Homo sapiens: one gene and its partner. The protein of the gene in region 1 interacts with the protein of each later gene in a biochemical or structural test. Each region holds a gene or a part of one and is shown on either strand. Other genes may lie near its edges.

Region 1 (3,750 bases):
GCTTTCTCTACCTTTTATAAACATTTTGTTTAACTTTTATTGTGGTAAAATACACATAACACTTCTCTTCTTTTAGACCTGGGCTGGTAAGAAGTGCTGAAGATGTTTTTTAGAGATTTGTGGTATGACAAATTCCACTGGGGTTTCTGACCTTCTCAGTCATGCTTGTCTTGGGGTCACCACTCCTTGGCCCTCTCCTATGGCACCTGTCCCTCATTCTGCTCAAGCCCCTATGCCTTCCCAACAACTTGCCTTTAGCTCTGGGCAGATGTCTTTGCTTGCACTTGTCACAGAGAACATGAAGGCTCTCTGCTGTTTTGTGCCCATGCACATGCCTCTTCTCTGTCTTTACCTCCTGTCCTCCAGGCTTGGAGGGAGAGCACCTAGCTCCCATCATTTTCTTGTACACTCTCCCTGTCCCTCTGGATGCTACGCCAGCATTTTCCCTCCCCTACTCCTTCACCTCCACATTTTGTCTTTCTTTACTGTTCCTTTCCTGCAGAAATACATGCCCAAGTTGTTCCCATCTTAAACACAGACAAATGAAAAACAAAAGGATTTAAGTTTTGTCTATACCACATTTTCCTTTAGTTTATCCCTATGTTTTTTCCTTGATAAACTACTACATACCTTCAAAGAATAGTCTGCAGTCCTTGTTTTCTTTTGTTAACTTTCCATTTCTTCTTTGGGCCCCTGGAATCAGGCTTCTACTCTCACTATTAAAGTCACTGGTTCCCTGGTTACCAAATGTAAGGGTCTCTCTAGGCCTCATTTTACTTGACCTTTCTAAAATATTTAATGCTGGCCACTTTCATCTTTATGAAAGCTTTAGGTTTCTGGGATGCCACTCCTGATTTTCCTACCTTTGGTCCATTTCTTCTCCTTTGCTGACCTTCTTCCTCTGGCCACCCAGCTCTTAAATGCTGATCCTCCCTGAGTCTCCCTTTCGATAGTCTCATTTATCTGCATGGTTTTAATGACCATATCTGCACAGGTGATTCGGAAACCTGAATCTTCCACCCAGATCACTCTCTTGAGCTCTAAACCCACGTAACATAATCCTTTTAACAATTCTACAAAATAGCACTGTTTCCCACATTTATAGGTGAGGAAATTGAGGCTAAGAAAGGTAACCTGTTTGAAGTCAGTGGAAAAGCCAGGATTTTAACGTCTACCTAAAATCAGGCCTTTAACTCTATTAATCAAACATCTCCACCTGGTTATCTGACAGATATATCCTACACTGAATGCCATCTCATAATCCTGTTCTCCTTCCTTGCCTCAAAAAAAATTAGAAAATGTGAAAGACTATATTCTCAATCTCAGTGAATGACATTCCTTCTTTTCAGTTATACAAGTTGGAATGTAAAGGGAATTGACATAGACTTTTCTCTGTCTCCTACCCTGCAGGTCCATCTAGCCCGAGGTAGTATCAGTTCTTGTGCATCTACCTTTTTGACGTGACTTGTAATCATACCCTCCTCTTTATTCTCACTGCTACTGACATAGTTAAGAACTTTATCTTGACTGTTATTGCCATTATAGTGACAGTCTAACTCACTGCTTCTCACATTATCTGAGCTGAAGAACCAGGGTTTATTGTTTCTGTTTTTTTAATTTTTAATCTGTTGCAGAAATTTTGTAGCATATAAAAAAATTAATTAGAAAAATGAAATGAAAAAAGACATACAAAAATAGCTCAGTTTTATACATTATTAAATTCAATACACATAAAAATTACTCTGTCAAATTGTCATAAAAGTTTTTGGGTACTAATAGTCTATGTATATCCTGTCCCAGATGGGTCACACTTTTGCACATTGGCACTGGTCCACAAACAACATTGAGGAATGCTAGTTCACAGTATCTGATGAAAAGAAATGTCTTCAGTTCTCTTAGATTATAACCACATGGGCCTATGTTATTTAAAACTGAAACATTTCAGTAGAAGGTTCTTTGCTTTGACTTATAGATAGCTTCTATATGTGGATTTAAGAGGTTTTAGAAAATTCCCTGTTTCTTTAGGATCCCTTCTTTCAGTAGGAATAAATCCCATCGAGCAAGGGGTAATCATGTGTTATGTTACAATTTAATGCCAAAATCAAAGTGTACTGACTTAAGAATCAAATCAACATTTTCTTAAATAGGCTTGAAGTACCTTCATGTATCTTCATGGGATACCTGTAATAAAAGTGATTTTCCCTGATTTGATATATTTAACTTGATATGATTGTGCATACAAAAAAAAAACTGTGCTTCTATATTGCACAGTGAAATATAGCAAATGGGTTGATGTGATCTCCATTTCTGAAAGATTAAAATTCTACGTTGGTATTATTCTGACTGGGAGTGAAATAATAAAAGTAAGTTATTTGGATTTAGGCAGGCATCTGACTAAGCCCTTGTCAGAAGATTTGAAATTAATGACATGCAGACAGGAGATACCAAATTGTCAAACTGTAGAATATCTCTTGGCTTTAAATGGCATGGCAGAAGAATAAAAAAACACAGCAACAAAGTTCTAAGGGGACAGAATTGAGAGATTGGAATGCTCTAAATATTAAGCTGAGATTGTACCTGGAGTTAGTTCAGAAATATAGTAAATAAAACCATGCTGTACAGAACCCATTGTTGTCTGCAGTAGGCCTGACACAGAACAAAACACATGGGGCAAATGCCTGAGAGCATAATCTTCCCATGTGTGGTAAAAAAGTCAAAAAAGGCCTTTTTAGACATTTTTAAATTAAAAAAAAAAATTAAGCTAGTCTACAGCAGTGTGCCAGGAACCAAAAAACTACTACAGAAACTTTCTAATCATTAAGAGTTTTAAAAGCAATTTTAAAAAATTGAATACAGCAATATTTGCTCTGTTAATGAAGTGTATGACCCAAAACACTATTAACTATCAAAACAGAACATACTTTTTTTTTTTAACAAGAAATTGGGGCACTATAGGAAGTTTAGGAGATTATATTCCCAAAAGCAGTATGTTAGAACCCTTCTTCTTTCATAGTAGATGGGTAGATGGCAGAATGCTAAACTCATACCTAGAAAATGATTAGAAGTTTTATTCAAATAAAAATTTTAAAGTAGCATAACTTGTATACAGTTCAGGTTGGAGAGGAGTCAGGAAAAGGTAACCTCATTGTGATCCATATGCTCCCCAAAGCAGAAATGGGTGAAGTGAAATGAAAAGAAAGTTTATTTTTTAAAGGTAATAAAGACAAAGGAAAAACAAAAAAACATAACTTTTCTTAATTTGTGTTGTAGCAAGTTAAGCTGAGGTACGGAATACCAGGTGGATGGGCATGGGAAAGGGAGATGATGACACTGCAAGCAGAGGGAAGAGAAAAGAAAAAGAGACATGTGGAGGATAGCGTGGAATAGCTGCCTGGCCTGTGCTCAAAATAGTAAGCAGTTTGGGATGGCCAGAGCATACTCAGGAATGGTATTTAGTGCTGGCTGGGATCTGACCATGGAAGATGCTTATACCAGTGCCTCTCAAACTTAAGTGCACGTGAGCACCCGAGGATTTGTTAAAATTCGTATTCTAGGTGGAGACTTCAGAGGCTGCGTTTCTAACAAGCTGCAATGTGATGCAAATGCTGCAGGGTCACAGGCCACACTGAACAGCAAAACTGCAAATTTTATCCTAATATTTATCAATAATATGTTTTATGGATGAAGAGTTTCCACCATTACAGTGTTTGTTGAATAGCACAAAATACATAGCATTTATCTTAAGCTAGA
Region 2 (3,750 bases), on another chromosome or scaffold:
CCTGGCCTCAAGGGATCCTCCCACCTTGGCCTTCCAAATGCTAGGATTACAAGTGTGAGCCACCGTGCCTGGTCTCACGTATGCCTTTATATTCTACTTTTTCTAACGCTCAAGGGTAAATTTTATCATTACCGCTACTATATATATATACAGGTAAACTAAGTGCCAATCATCAGCAAGTGTAACTTGCATTTTGTGGCAAATATACATAGAGGTACATGAGATTACGGTAGTACCAGCATTACCAAGGAGCTTATTAAGAATTCAGAATCTCAGATCTCTATCTACTGAGTCAGAATTTGCCCTTTAACAAGATCCCTAGGTAATATGGAAACACATTAAAGTTTGAAAAGTACTCCTTTAGAGCAGTGGTTCTCAAACTTTAATGTGCATTGGGTCCAACCCTCAAATTTTCAGTGTAACTGGTGTGGAGCCTAAAAATCTCCACTTCTAACAAGTTCTTGGGTGATGCTGATGCTGGTGGTTCAGTAACCATACCACTCCATGTGGAATGAAATAACTAATAGAATGCTGATGGTTAGGCTGAACGTGGTGGCTCATGCCTGTAATCACAGCACTTTGGGAGGCTGAGGCGGGCAGATCACTTGAGGTCAGGAGTTTGAGACCATCCTGGCCAACATGGCAAAACCCTGTCTCTACTACTTGGGAGGGTCAAGCAGGAGAATCGCTTGAACCTGGGAGGCAGACGTTGCAGTGAGTTGAGATCGTGCCATCACACTCCAGCGTGGGTGACCAACCCAGACTCCATCTCCAAAAAAGAAAAAAGGAAAAAAAAATGCTGATGGTTTATACAGTCCTGGGGAGAATTAAGAAAACAGTCAATTTTCTGTGCTCTTTGGTTCAGAGGAGGAAGTGTAGTTATGAAAAGTATGAAAGTTTGGGGAAGAAAAGCAACATAGATAATAAATCAGAGTGCTTAAAGAGTCAAAAGAATATATCTATCTTAGGCCGGGCACGGTGGCTCACGCCTGTAATCCCAGCACGTTGGGAGGCCAGGCGGGTGGATCACCTGAGGTCAGGAGTTCGAGACCAGCCTGGCCAACATGGTGAAACCGTCTCTACTAAAAATACAAAAAATTATCTGGGCGTGGTGGCGGGCGCCTGTAATGCCAGCTACTCGGGAGGCTGAGGAAAGAGAATTGCTTGAACCCGGGAGGTGGAGGTTGCTGTGAGCCGAGATCGTGCAATTGCACTCCAGCCTGGGCAACAAGAGTGAAACTCCATCTCAAACAAACAAACAAACAAAAAGAATATATCCATATTAGTAAAAACTCTTTCCCCCTTTTTACTAACCTACTCCCAAAACAGGGATAACCTAAGCTCAATAAAATAAAGGAGCCTACTATCAGTGGGTTTACCTCAAGGGGTTTAATCATTGTCCTGGTAAAAAGCTCTTCTGTGCTTCCCAAATAAGATCTGGCTAGATATACAGATTCAGGGCCCCATTCAAGAGATGGTATTTCAGTGGGTCTCAAGTCAGGTTCCTAGAAATGACTATTTTTAACACGTGTACCAGGTGCTGCTTGGTTTGGTAGTTATCACAGGCCATTCTACTCTTTACCTGTCAGTTTAATTTTGTCCACTCTGAGATAGGTTTTCTAATAGCATGTGTCGAATAAAGTATCCAGCCTGGTGGATTATCAGTGAACAAACACAACTGAGCACAATAGTTAAGTGTTCATTAGGTAATACGCAGATGTTCTTGTCCCAGTGATTCGTACAGAGCCATCTGTCTGGAGGTAGATAAGAAGAATGGCTGATGGAGATAAATGTCCATCAAGTGATTTTAAAAGCAGAGGGGAGGGAAGAAAGCCTGATGCCTAGCACAGGTTTTCCTGAATCCAATGGCATTACTGTGTTCCCTAAGTCCATTTCCTGCCCCCCAACTTCATCTCCTCTTTATCTATCCCCTCCTCTGGACTCCCTCTATCTTTATAAAAACAAAGTTTAGTCTTTAACATGTTTACTAAATATAGTTTTATGTTCTTTAATATATGTAAGAGAATGAGCATTTACAATTCTGTATCTCTCCCTTCCCACAAACAGCAAAAAAAAAAAAAAAAAAAAAAAAAAAATCAGCTAATTGCTTTCAACTCAATTTTCATGTTTCCTGAAAAAAAAATCAGTTCACAACCTTTTAACTGAAGTAATTTGTATTTCCACAAGTCAGTAGTAATAGAAACAAAATCCTCCTTTCGATATCCTATTAGCCTCCTACTTAAGGGAATGAGAATAATGAGGATCAAAATAAAAACATGTCAAATAATAAAACTGCATGATAGTTGCATTTTTCTGTGAGAAATGAATTTAGAAAACAAATCTGAAGTTATCTGAGATGTCTATACTGTCTCAGCCTCCCAAGTACCTGGGATTACAGGTGCATCCCACTACGCCCAGCTAATTTTTGTGTCTTTAGTAGAGACGGGGTTTCGCCATGTTGGCCAGGCTGGTCTGAAACTCCTAACCTCAGGTGATCCACCCGCCTCAGCCTCACGAAGTGCTGGGATTACCGACAGGTGTGAGCCACTGGGCCCAGTTTTACATACATATTTCTACAGCAAGAGTCAAAACAGTAAGAAGGGTTACTCTGGGGAAGACTCTTGTCGGAGAAACAGGTAAGACCTGAAGTTGCAAGCCCTGGGAAAGAGAAGTGGCAACATTGTATTTATTATTATACTAAGCCCTGGATCCCTAGAGGTAGATGGGGTGAAGAAATGAAGAAATCAGAAGAAATCTATAGACAGAAGTGATACACTGTTTTTCCCCTTTCTTGTTTTATGTGTCATACGTAAACAGTAATATAAAATAATTTGATAAACTTTATTCTGTTAAAGGGACAAATGAATAGGTTCTTCAAGCAAAACCCATTTGGTATTACCCGAATTTATTTATATTTGTGAATGTAATATTCACTGGGATGCAGGTGAAAGTGAAGTCTTTCTCTTTCATTACTTAAAGCTACTCATTTGTAGAGAACAATTAAGATTGTATTATTGACCTTTTAAGGCAAGGCCCATACAAATAAACCAGGCTCTTCATTGTAACAGTACAGATTAAATAACAATGTCAAAATAAAAACCCAAAGTTAACAGAAACGTAACACTGTATCTTACTTTTACAGTTTCGACATCTCCAGCCTTTGCAGCTTCCAGCAATTGTCTGTCTGCCTCTGAATTACCTAATGAGATACCCTCTAAAAAAGAGAGAGAGAGAGAAGAGTGACTAACCTCTATTTGGAAGATGGAACCAAGCTTTATGGAAGGCATCTCATCAGAAAGCAAAGTTCTTTTACAATTTGGTAGATTATGTACGAGATCTCCATGGTAGTAAGGGGGGTGAGGGTTGGGGAGTGAAAAATAAGATTCTCTTAAAACTCTTTGAAATACAACACATATAAGCAAAATATGTAAATGTGTATAATGATTATAAAATGTGATGTAAGCAATATAAAGGAACATAAAGGAGATGACTAAAGATGGCCTGCTCTATAAGCAAGCCATTGGAATGGTGCAAAAGTATTAAATTAAGAGAGCAAACAGAAATCTAACTGTGGTTCTGTCATTAATTAGCTATCTGAACTGGAACAAGTCACTGGAACTTCCTGGTTCTCAGATTTTTTCAGTTCTAAAGACATAAGGTAGACTAGTAGAAATGTAACATCATTTCCAGGTCTGAAATTCTAAGTTTACAGCTCATTTAAAGTGTCAGAAAAGGAAAACATCTACCTTG

The links. The genes of interacting proteins can lie anywhere in the genome.
Region 2: the proteins of LNPEP (region 1) and TNKS2 form a complex in vitro, tested with the Homo sapiens proteins (4 studies listed by BioGRID and IntAct, with this or other methods).

Annotation. Positions count from the first base shown.
Region 1 is NC_000005.10:96,974,006-96,977,755, forward strand, and holds part of LNPEP (leucyl-cystinyl aminopeptidase), read left to right. Parts: intron 1-3,750. UniProt on the Homo sapiens protein: Release of an N-terminal amino acid, cleaves before cysteine, leucine as well as other amino acids. Degrades peptide hormones such as oxytocin, vasopressin and angiotensin III, and plays a role in maintaining homeostasis during pregnancy.
Region 2 is NC_000010.11:91,836,383-91,840,132, reverse strand, and holds part of TNKS2 (poly [ADP-ribose] polymerase tankyrase-2), read right to left. Parts: exon of another isoform or gene 3,480-3,750; coding exon of another isoform or gene 3,249-3,479; intron 3,215-3,248; coding exon 3,135-3,214; intron 1-3,134. UniProt on the Homo sapiens protein: Poly-ADP-ribosyltransferase involved in various processes such as Wnt signaling pathway, telomere length and vesicle trafficking.